Linked DNA regions of Homo sapiens: region 2 is linked to region 1. Evidence: fine-mapped expression QTL. A gene starts in region 1. The other region holds a variant in brackets. All regions are shown on one strand. Distances are from middle to middle.

What was found. PIP is the estimated chance that this variant, and not a neighbour inherited with it, causes the effect.
Region 2: its variant is fine-mapped to the expression of LYST in unexposed skin (GTEx, PIP 0.96).

What each region holds. Positions count from the first base shown.
Region 1 is chr1:235,864,330-235,869,706 of GRCh38, forward strand. LYST (lysosomal trafficking regulator) reads right to left here and starts at 2,577. Exons shown (of 53, transcript NM_000081.4): 1 at 2,514-2,577. RefSeq lists enhancers at 1,635-1,684, 2,055-2,154 and silencers at 2,275-2,694, 2,745-3,044.
Region 2 is chr1:235,930,103-235,935,479 of GRCh38, forward strand. The region is part of intron 2 of LINC02768 (long intergenic non-protein coding RNA 2768); the gene reads right to left. The region is part of intron 2 of LOC105373215 (a long non-coding RNA gene); the gene reads left to right. Among named protein-coding and RNA genes, the nearest start is that of LINC02768, 40 kb to the right of the region's middle. The variant T/C (reference allele first, on the strand shown) is at 2,371.

The DNA of each region.
Region 1 (5,377 bases):
ACCAACTCCCACCCTTCTCCCCACCAAACCTACTCCTCTCGTAAACCTAATCTCAGTAAACAAGTACCCCATCTTTCTACTTGTTCGGAACTAAATTTTGGTGTCTTTTACATCTCTACCCTCAATTTATCCTGAAATCAATGACCTCTCACCACCTCCACCAATTCCACTCTGGTCCAAGCTACATTATCTCTGGCCTGGATTAGGGCAACAGTTCCGGATTGGTATCCCAGCTTCTGCTCCTGCTCAACCCTTCCCCTACAACAAAGTCTATTCTCCATCCAGCGCCCAGAATGATCATTTTTAAAAGGCAAGCCTGGGGCCGAGCGCAGTGGCTCACGCCTACAATCGCAGAATGTTGACACGCCAAGGTGGATGGATCGCTTGAGCCCAGGAGTTTGAGACCAGCCTGGGCAACAATGGCGAAACCCCATCTTTACAAAAAATTAGCCAAGCATGGTGGGTGATGTGTGCCTGAAGTCCCAATTACTTCAGAGGCTGAGGTGAGAGGATCACCTGAGCCTGGGAAGTCGAGGCTGCAGTAGGTTGTGATCATGCCACTGCACTCCAGCCTGGGAGACAAAGTGAGATCCTGACTCAAAACTAAAAATAAAAGGTAAGGTTCTTTACTCAAAGAGTGGACTCCCCTTTCCACTGAGAGTAGAAACTCAAGTCCTTAAAAGGGCCTACAAGGCCTTATACAGTCTAATCTCCCACCACACTCACCTCTTTGACTTTATTTCTACTCCTCTTTGCTTTTTCCACCACAGCCAAATCAGCCTCTCTGCTGTCCTCAAACAAGCCCAGCACACAGGGCTTCTGCAAGCCCTTCTGCCTTCCTCTCTGCTAGCACATCCTTCCCTCAGAGAGGTACATGGATTACCCCTCACTTACTTCTGGTCTTGGCTCAAATGATATCTTTTCTAGGAAGCTTTCCCTGGCTGCCTCTAGTTAAAATTGCAAACCTCTCCCGGTTCCCTGCCCTCCCTCTTCCCTGCCCTCCCTCTTCCGTGCTTTTTCTCTGTAGTACTTAACACCATCTGACACAGCACATATTTTATTTGTTTATTATCTGAGGTCCCCACTAGAATATAAGCTCCATGAAGGAGCAGATATTTATGTTTTCTTAGAAAAGTATCTGACACGCAGTAGGTGCTCAATAAATATTTACTAAATACATATATATAATTATATAGTTTGTGAAGTATTTTTATGCAAATTACAGCAATTCATTTTTCCTTATGCCCTCTCTTCTTCAAATTCTCCAATCTTTGTAGTAACAATATGGATGACAGCAAAGAGCTATCAGAAAAAGAGTTGTTGGCCACTTAACAAAGCTCTTTAAAACAGATACCCCATATTAATCAACTACATCTATAAATTGAAAGCTTAAAGTCAACATCTTTATTAGCATAGATGAATCTAGGCGTGGAATTTTAAAATAATAGCGCAGAAGAGCCAAGAATCATCAGGAAGAAAAGTCTAATTCAGTTTGTCCTATCAATCTGTTAAACAAACAATAGGAAAATGCAACCTGCATTTGATCTTCAAGGAAACACTGGCCCAAATTCAACACGAACGCATTCAACACAAGATTCGACTCCCTTAAAATTTTCTATCTGCTTAAAACAAACCCCATTAACTATCAAGTGCCGTCGCTGGGTGTGTATGGTCTGCCGAGCGGATCGGGGATGTTTTGCTATGTTTTGTTTAACCAGATAAGAATTAGCGTTAAGGAAACGTTTCTTAAAGCCTCTGTATCCCCTGGACCATTAAACAACCCCTTCGTTGGGCTTTACACTGTGGTACCGGGGTCTTCTCGGGTAATTTCCCAGCTTATTTAACTCATCAGAAGCGAAGGGGCATCTCAGTCAGGCTCCAGTGATACCGGAGACAGACGGCAGATGTCTCAGGGGATCCCCTGGAAAGAGAGGCTCTCGCCCAGTCAAAGGGTGTCACGGACAGGAGGAAAGAGCGGACCGAGGCGCACGGTGTAGGTGACAGGTGGGCGAGCGCCGCAGGGCAACAGCGCGGGGAGTGACCGGCTGGGTGGTGGCGCGGAAACCGTCAACTCCCATCGTCAACCTGACAGCTTGGGCCCAGCTGGGCTGAGTAGTGCAGCGGCACAGGATCAAAAAATAAAATAAAGGTAGCAACACACCGCCGTCAGCCTGCTCGACCTCGCCCCCCGCGCGCTGCGAAATAAAGTTAGTGCCCAGTGGCCGCTGCAATGGCCCAGAGGGGCCCAGCCGAGCTCCCGCCCGCGGCCCGGCGGCTGTCAAAGGCGGCCCGGCGCCGCGAGAAGTCCCAGAGCCCAGAAGCCAGAGAGGACGCCCCGAGCTGGCGCGTCAGGCCGAGTGCCCTCGCGCCCTCGCGCCCTCAGCCCGGCGGTCCCGGCCCTCAACCCAGGCTGACAGCCACCAGCCCCAAACCGCCTCCCCTCCAGGCCACGCAGAGGGGCCGGGACCCGGAACCTTCTGCCGGCAGCGTCGGCGCCCGGCGGCCGCCTTTACCTGGTTTGTGGCAGCTGCGGCCGCCGCGCACTCCCCCTCTCCCGGAGAACCCCGAGCCGACGCCGCTGCCGCCGCCGCCGCGCACTCCCCACCCCCGCCCGCCCAGGTAACCCAGGAAACCGAGAACACCACCCCCTCCCTCCCCTCGTCCGGACCCAGACCCGCTCGTCTGCGCGTGCGCCCTTGGCTCCGCCTCGCGCGTGTAAGCCCCGCCTCCTCTGGGAGGGCAGCGCCGGCGTCGCAGGCGTGACGCGTGGAACTGCCGAGCCAATAGGGAAGGCAGGGGGGCGGGCCGACCCGCGGGGCTGCAGCCGGGGCCCGGTCTGGGTTTCTCAGCGGTCGGGGGTCGTACCCTGGGTCCGCACCTCCTCCCAGGGCTCTGCGTAGTGGGCTGCGTCAGACCCTGGGGAGTGCGAGCACCGTTTGAGAAGCACCAAACACAAGCGCATCGTCCGCCTCTTCCATTCAACACAGACTGTCAACCTGTCCCATTGTGTAGGTCTAGAGGATGAAGATAGAAGAAATAACGGGAAGGAGTCAGGAGAGGGAGAAAGGGTTACCCACAAGGCACCCCTAGCCTTCCTCTGGGACCTGGAAAAAGCCATATTGTAATGGTTACCGTCGGCTTCTTTCAAGAAACAAAAAGAGCTTTGCAAAGCCACTGCAGAAGTAATTCAGTGCAGTGGTGTATTTTCCAACCGACTCCTGTTCAAACACGGTTTGTATACAGTGCGCACTGTCAGTGTCATATGCCCTAATAGACCAGTCCCTCCAGAGGGTGGGAGCTGTAGGTAAAATCCAGGATGTTTTGGCTGCATCCCCGGCTCTGGGCCCAGCACGCTGCTGGCAGACTGCTGCGGTAGGCAGTTTGGCATTTCAAGGGCCACCCTCCTCACCTCCTAGTCACTGAGACAGCAACGCCAGAGGTACTGGGAAAAAGCCTGAACTGTAATCGTTCGGTAGTTTTCAAGTTCTGCCAAACAATACAAACTATTAATAAGCAGATAATCTACAAATTGACAGGAATTGCTGTAGAATCAACAACTCCCATAATTTTTTGCACAGGAATTATGAAATAGAAATAATTCAGGATATTATGTCCCAAGCCTATATACCAAATGTTACTCCCAATTCCTCAAACTCCCATCTAACCCAATGACAAGCAAAGTGCGTTAAGTTGCCCACTGATGTGGTTTAGAGGGTGCTCTTGGGGAAAATTCCCCACTTTAAAATATGTCTTCTCTGACGTCTGATGTTTAACCATTAGCAGTTCATATCTTTAGGCGAAGATTGCCCACTTCCTCTGGCAGGTAGTCTTTTATTTTTATTTTTTATCTTTTTTTTTTTGAGACAGATTCTCGCTCTGTCGCCCAGGCTGGAGGGCAGTGGCCGGATATCGGCTCACTGAACCCTAACAAGTGCAGGAAATAAATGTCTCAGGGAACTTATCACTCATTTAAGCAGTATATAATGAGCACCTACAATGCGCTAAGTATTGTGCTAGGTGCATGGGCCTGAACTGAAACAAAAAGAGGAAGCCAAACTTAACCTGTTTCGTCATTTTACCTAAAGCTGTGTCTACTCTTATTTATACATCAACTTTCACCCACTAATCTTAAAAACACCCCCCTTTTTTAATGGACAAAAGAAGTCAAAGAAATATTAAGTAACAAGCCAGTTTCTGTTAACCTTGAGTAGAAAATAATAGATTATCATGATTTCATTAAAGCAAAGAAAATGAGACAGACTTTAGATGATAATGGTATACAATTGGCCCTCAAAGTATTATTTGTTTGTAAAAGGCACAAAGTAATGCCATTTGTGACTATTATTTTTTTCGGTACCAGTGTTTTTTATTTTATTTTATTTTCAAGATGCAGCTTCACTCTTTTTCCCTGACTGGAGTGCAGTGGCACAGTCTCGGCTCACTGCAACCTCCGCCTCCCGGGTTCAAGTGATTCTCCTGCCTCAGCCTCCCAAGTAGCTGGGATTACAGGAATGTGCTACCATGCCCGGCTAATTTTGTATTTTTAGTAGAGACAGAGTTTCATCATGTTGGTCAGGCTGGTCTCGAACTCCTGACCTCAGGTGATCCACCCACCTCTACCTCCCAAAGTGCTGGGATTACAGGCATGAGACACCGCTCCTGGCCTCGGTTCCAGTATTTTAACTAAGCTACTGCAGTATGTATTTTATTCAATAGTATCTTAGAACATCGATACTAAATATACATATCAAATAAAACTTAGTTTAAAAGATTTCCTAGGAACACACACAAAATGTGTAGTGAAGAACATGAAAAAGAAGAAAAAAGTAAAGTAATAGGTATATAGAAGAAAGCTCTACTTGGCCGGGCGCAGTGGCTCACGCCTGTAATCCCAGCACTTTGGGAGGCCGAGGCGGGCAGATCACGAGGTCAGGAGATGGAGACCATCCTGGCTAACACGGTGAAACCCCGTCTCTACTAAAAATACAAAAAATTAGCCGGGCGCGGTGGCGGACGCCTGTAGTCTCAGCTAATCGAGAGGCTGAGGCAGGAGAATAGCGTGAACCCGGGAGGCGGAGCTTGCAGTGAGCTGAGATAGCGCCACTACAGTCTGGCCCGGGTGAAAGAGCGAGACTCCGTCTCAAAAAAAAAAATAATAATTAAAAAAGCTCTACTTACGCATGTATCACATGCTGGAAAACTTTTTAAGCAGGAAAGTCTTCAGCTAATTTGACTCCAGAATTATAATCTTCAATGAGATTGTAACATCCCAGCTTAAAACAACACAGTCAACGTAAATGTGCATAATTTCACATTTAATTATTCTCCAAAACACCTTTAAAAATTATTTGTGACTAAATGGATATATAAATCAAAT
Region 2 (5,377 bases), 66 kb after region 1:
GTCTCAGCCTCCCGAGTAGCTTGGACTACAGGAGCACGCACGCCACCATGCCCAGCTAATTTTTTTATTTTTATTAGAGATGGGATTTCACCATGTTGGCCAGGATGGTCTCGATCTCTTGACCTCGTGATCCGCCTGCCTTGGCCTCCCAAAGAGCTGGGATTACAGGCGTGAGCCACTATGCCCCACCAGCTTGCATTTTTTTTTTCTGAGTGATTACCATAGTCCCTGGCATTATTCTGTGAGCTTTACATAAATGGAGTCATTTAATCCTCGCAACGATTCTACAGAGGTCATCAGGGCGACATGGGCTACGTAATTTGCCCAAGGTTGCTAAAAAAAGAACACACACACACACACACACACACACACACACACACACACATATATATAGTTGTTGTTGTTTTTTTTTGTTTTTGTTTTTTGTGGGGGGTGTAAACCAATTTCCTTCAAGGCCTGCTATCTGTCATGTGATGTTATACCAGAGTCAGGTTGGAATTTGGTATCTTATTGTTACAAAGAGTCTGTTTTATCAGTCTTAAGAGCGTTAATGGCATGTTAATGCTGGTCAGCTGTGCCTAAACTCCAAAGGGAGGAGGGTAAATGGGGCACGTCCAACCCTCCCTTCCCACATGGCCTGAGCTAGTTTTTCAGGTTTGCTTGGATCCCCTTGACCAAGAGGACAGTCCGTTCAGTCATTTGTTGGGGCGGGTGGGGAGGTGTTTGGATTTTTTTTTTTTTTAGTTTATAAGAGGAATAGTCACTCGGTTACTATTTTTTGCACGACAACGACTAAAAAGACAAACTTCCTCTGATAAATGCGGTTTATCAAGAGAGAGAAATAAACACACACAGAGAATGAACTTCTTTGGCTCCAAACTGGATAAAACATTGGGAGGAATTTTTAAGATTAATATTCTGTGTGTAAATACATGTTCATAATAATGTTTGATTCAGGTGGCAAACACAAGTGCTCATTCTAAAGAAAGGCGTCAACGTCAAACTCAGTTTGAAAAGTTTGCCAGGGACGCAAGACTCAGCACCTCGGGCTCATGCAACTTGTATCTGCCTAAAATGAATTGCAGCTTGTCAGGAGCTACTTGGAAGAACAAAATGATCTAGAAGACCAGATGCGAAAGAGAGCAGAAGAAATCACTCTTGTTTTGTTAAGCTTCAGGGAGTTTGACTTAGCGGGTGAAGAAAGACTGAACCCCAGGTGGCAAGAGAGAGATGGGTCCCTTCGCTCTTCTCCCTGGACAACTGAACTTTCTCACACTCTCTCTAACTCCCACCTGCAGCCTGCAGTGGAGACTAGAGATGCCCCAACGACCTTGCTTTGAAGACTGAGATGAAGAATGAATCGTTAGAGGCACTTTGCAGGTGTGTGAGTGCTACACCGATGCGAACAGGGACACAGTACTAAGCTGGCAAAACGTGTGTGTAAATAGCATCTGGGAGGAAACTGCAGTTTACAATCCTAAAGGGAAGGAAAAAAAAGAAAGAGATCAGAAGCCAATAAGGGGCTGGTGCAGTGGCTCATGCCTGTAATCCCAGCATTTGGTGGATCACCTGAGATTAGGAGTTCCAGACCAGCCTGGCCAACATGGTGAAACCTTGTCTCTACTAAAAATACAAAAATTAGCCGGGCGTGGTGGTGGGTGCCTGTAGTCCCAGCTACTCAGGAGGCAGAGGCAGGAGAATGGCGTGAACCCGGGAGGTGGAGGTTGCAGTGAGCTGAGATCGCACCACTGCACTCCAGCCTGGGCAGCAGAGTGAGACTCTTGTCTAAAACACACACACACACACACACACACATACACACACACAAAACAAGAAACCAATAAGGTGGCATTTAAGAGTGCTTAAGATCTGGTGTTCATTTTAGCTGGCTGCATTGCAAAAAGATGTGAAAGCTTTTATTTTATTTTATGAATACTTATTGAACAGCTACTCTGGGCAGGCCCTACTACCAGTTTCTGGGAGAACAAGATGAATTAGGCATGGTCCCTAATTGCAAGGGGTTCACAATTTAGCATCCTATGCAGATCTCCGTGGGGACAGCCCCAGGGGTTACCCTTGTTTGCTTGTGCTTTTGAGGTAGGCATTCAAGTGTAGACACTTGCAGCTGTGCGCCCTGCTCTTCCTGGGGGCCCGTCCTTCCCTCATTCCCCACCACACCGCAGGTGGGGCAGTTTTGGCTGCTCTGCAATCTCAACCGCAAAGAGTTGCTCCACCCTTTGTCCCGGCAAAACTCTGAATTGTCCTGTAATTATTGCCACACTGCAATCCGGTGCCATCTGATAAGTACAGGTTTCAAAACTGTGCTCACAATTCCTGCCAAAGCCATCCTGCCAACATCAGGCACAGACA[T/C]TGGCAAACCTACTCGGCCTGGGCTGAGTTGAGCTAAAGGTGCCATGAAAATCTGGAGATGGAAACTCAGCAACCACCTAGAATAAGATCACCTGCAACACACACATGTACACACAATCACACACACACGAGTGAGCACACACCCTTTCTCCCTGGGGTTTTGACTCCGTTCCTTATGTGATTCTATGTCAAATGTGTAGAAAAAAGAAGCTGTCCTGAGCACAGCACATTGAAAAATAAACGCCAGCATTTCAATAGCTTTGCAGAGAAGAGATCCACAGAATAGCGTTGGGTTTCCTCTTGTTCTTGCATGGAAACATGATCAGGTGAGGTTTGTACTAGAGCATTCTGTAACCCCTGATCCTGGGGGCTGATCAGGAAGAGTCAGGTGTGGTGTGTTTAAAAAGTGAAAGCCGGCCAGGTGCGGTGGCTCATGCCTGTAATCCCAGCACTTTGGGAGGCCAAGGCGGGCGGCTCACTTGAGGTCAGGAGTTCGAGACCAGCCTGGTCAACATGGTGAAACCCCATCTCTACTAAAAATTCAAAAATTAGCCAGTGTGATGGTGGGGGCCTGTAATACCAGCTACTTGGGGAGCTGAGGGAGGAGAATCGCTTGAACTTGGGAGACGGAGTTTGCAGTGAGGTGAGATCGCACCACTGCATTCCAGCCTGGGTGACAGAGCCAGACTCCATCTCGAAAAAAGAAAAAAAAAAAAAGTGAAAGCCACAGGTATCCTTTGGCAGAGGTTGCCAGTAGCCTGCCTGTAGTTTGCTTAGGCATGTTCTGAACATGCAGAATGATGTGCTGGGACTAAGTTGAGTTTGGCAGTCATTTCAGGAAAGCAAAAAAGAGAAGAATGTTAATAACTAAGAATTTCCAAGAATGGGCTCTAGTTCCAGCCTTGCAATGGAGGCTTTACATGCGCTGGCCCACAGAATCCTTACAACCACTCTGCGAAGGGCTTACTGTTATGATATTATTAGTCGCATTTCACAGATGGGGAAACAGCTTCAGAGAATAAAGCAACTTGCCCAAAGGTCACATATACAGTAGATAATGGAGCTGAACTGGGAACCAGAGCTGTGTGATCCAGTGAAGGTGGCCACAGGCTGGTAGAGGCTGCCTCACGCCTGCCCACTGCCTCTTGCCACCATGCTTGCCCCTGCTGCCCCCTGGCAGTGGCAGATTTGCAGGCTGTGCTGCCCTGAGACAGCCTCATGGGGCAGAGGGAGAAGCTTGGAGGCTCACTGGCAGACCTAGTCCCAAATGCAGGGAGGAAGGAAAAGTAGATTCATTTCCTCATTCTTGGCAGCAAAATCTCCTTCCTTCCCCATTGTTTCTTGGATCTTTCTTTTTACTTTCACTTAAATAATCCTACACTTCAATTCCTGGCCCCCTATCATCCATGCAGACAAAGCTCCTCTTTTGTTTTATTCATTATTTTTTCCCCGTTCCCCTTTCGAACTTCCATTCTCACTTCCGTTAGGTTTACATGCTAACTTGTTGATATACATGTCCTTAGACATGTGTTTACCTGAACTATGTATAGCAGCATTTTGCATACGTGTTTTTAAGTTTCATAAGTAATATGATGCCATTAATTTTATTCTATGCCCTTCTTTCAATTGACTATGTATTTTTTTTGCCTTTGCCAAAATAAGACTTTATTTTGAAAGTCATTTGAAGGACACTGAGAAAGACAGGAGACCTTAGATTCAATGGATGTAGATTCCAACTTTGGATTCTTGCCTGCCTCACTAATGGTCTCTGTTAGGCTGGAAAGGTGCTTTCTTTGGTCATTCCAATTTTTAGCTTGCTGGAGAAAACATCTTTTCCCAGAAGCCATCTTCTTCTTTTGTGTGTGTGTGTGTGTGTGTGTGTGTGTGTGTGTGTGTGTGTGTGTGTGGAGTAGAGCTTTATTTTCAGGAAACAGTATGTTAGTTGGAAATGGGTATATATATATATATATATATTTTTTTTTTTTAAATCAAGGTAGTTCTAATACATTCAACAGAGTGGGGTGGCTCAGCCAGAGGTGGCGTGAAAAGGTTCTCTATTATTTGCTTAATATCCTGCTACAACCAGAAATCCCCACCCAGGAATATAGTTCTGTACAAAGTTGTTCTGTCTTTGCATCATAAATGCTAATCAATGGTCAATTGACTATATTTTTAAAGTCTATTCATATACTGTTTGTAAATCTAGTTTATGACTTTTTTTTTTTTTTTTTTTGAGACAGGGTCTCACTCTGTCACCCAGGCTGGAGTGCAGTGGTGCCACCATGGCTCACTGCAGCCTAGACTTCCTGGGCTCAACAACCCTCCCTCATTAGCCTCCACCAAGTAGCTGGGACTGCAGGTGTGCACCACCATGCCCAGCTAGTTTTTTTATTTTTTGTAAAGATGGAGTCTCGATATGTTGCCCAGGGCTGGTCTCAAATTCCTGGCCTCAAGTAGTCCTCCCCTTCAGCCTCCCAAACTGCTGGGATTCCAGGCATGAGCCACCGAACCCAGCCTAGTTTATTACGTCTGACTGTGCAAAGTATTCCCTGCCTGCTTGTCTTCCTATACCCCTTCACTTACTGCTCCCTGATGGGTGTCTGTGTGTGTGTGTGGGGGGGGTGTGGGGATGATATTTGTTCATTGTCTGTTAGTACTCACTAAAATATATGTTCTATGTGAACAAGGAGTTTGTTTAATTCACTGAGATCACCACAGCTCTTAGAGTAGGAGCAGTACCAGCCCATGATAGGTTCTTGGTCAATATAGAATAAGTGCCTGAGTATCTGTCCACCACATTCTACGTTATCGCTTTCTCTAACAGGGTGGTCTTTTACCGCCTGCTACATAGACACCATATGGAGGAGGGTGGCGGGCTTGCGAGGTATATGCATATTTAATTCTCTTTTCTCCCTCCCTCCTCCACACCATTTCAGGGTTTTGTTTTGTTTTTTTTCAGTCTGAATTGCCCTTAGGCAGATAGAATATTTATGTCCTTTGAGGCCCG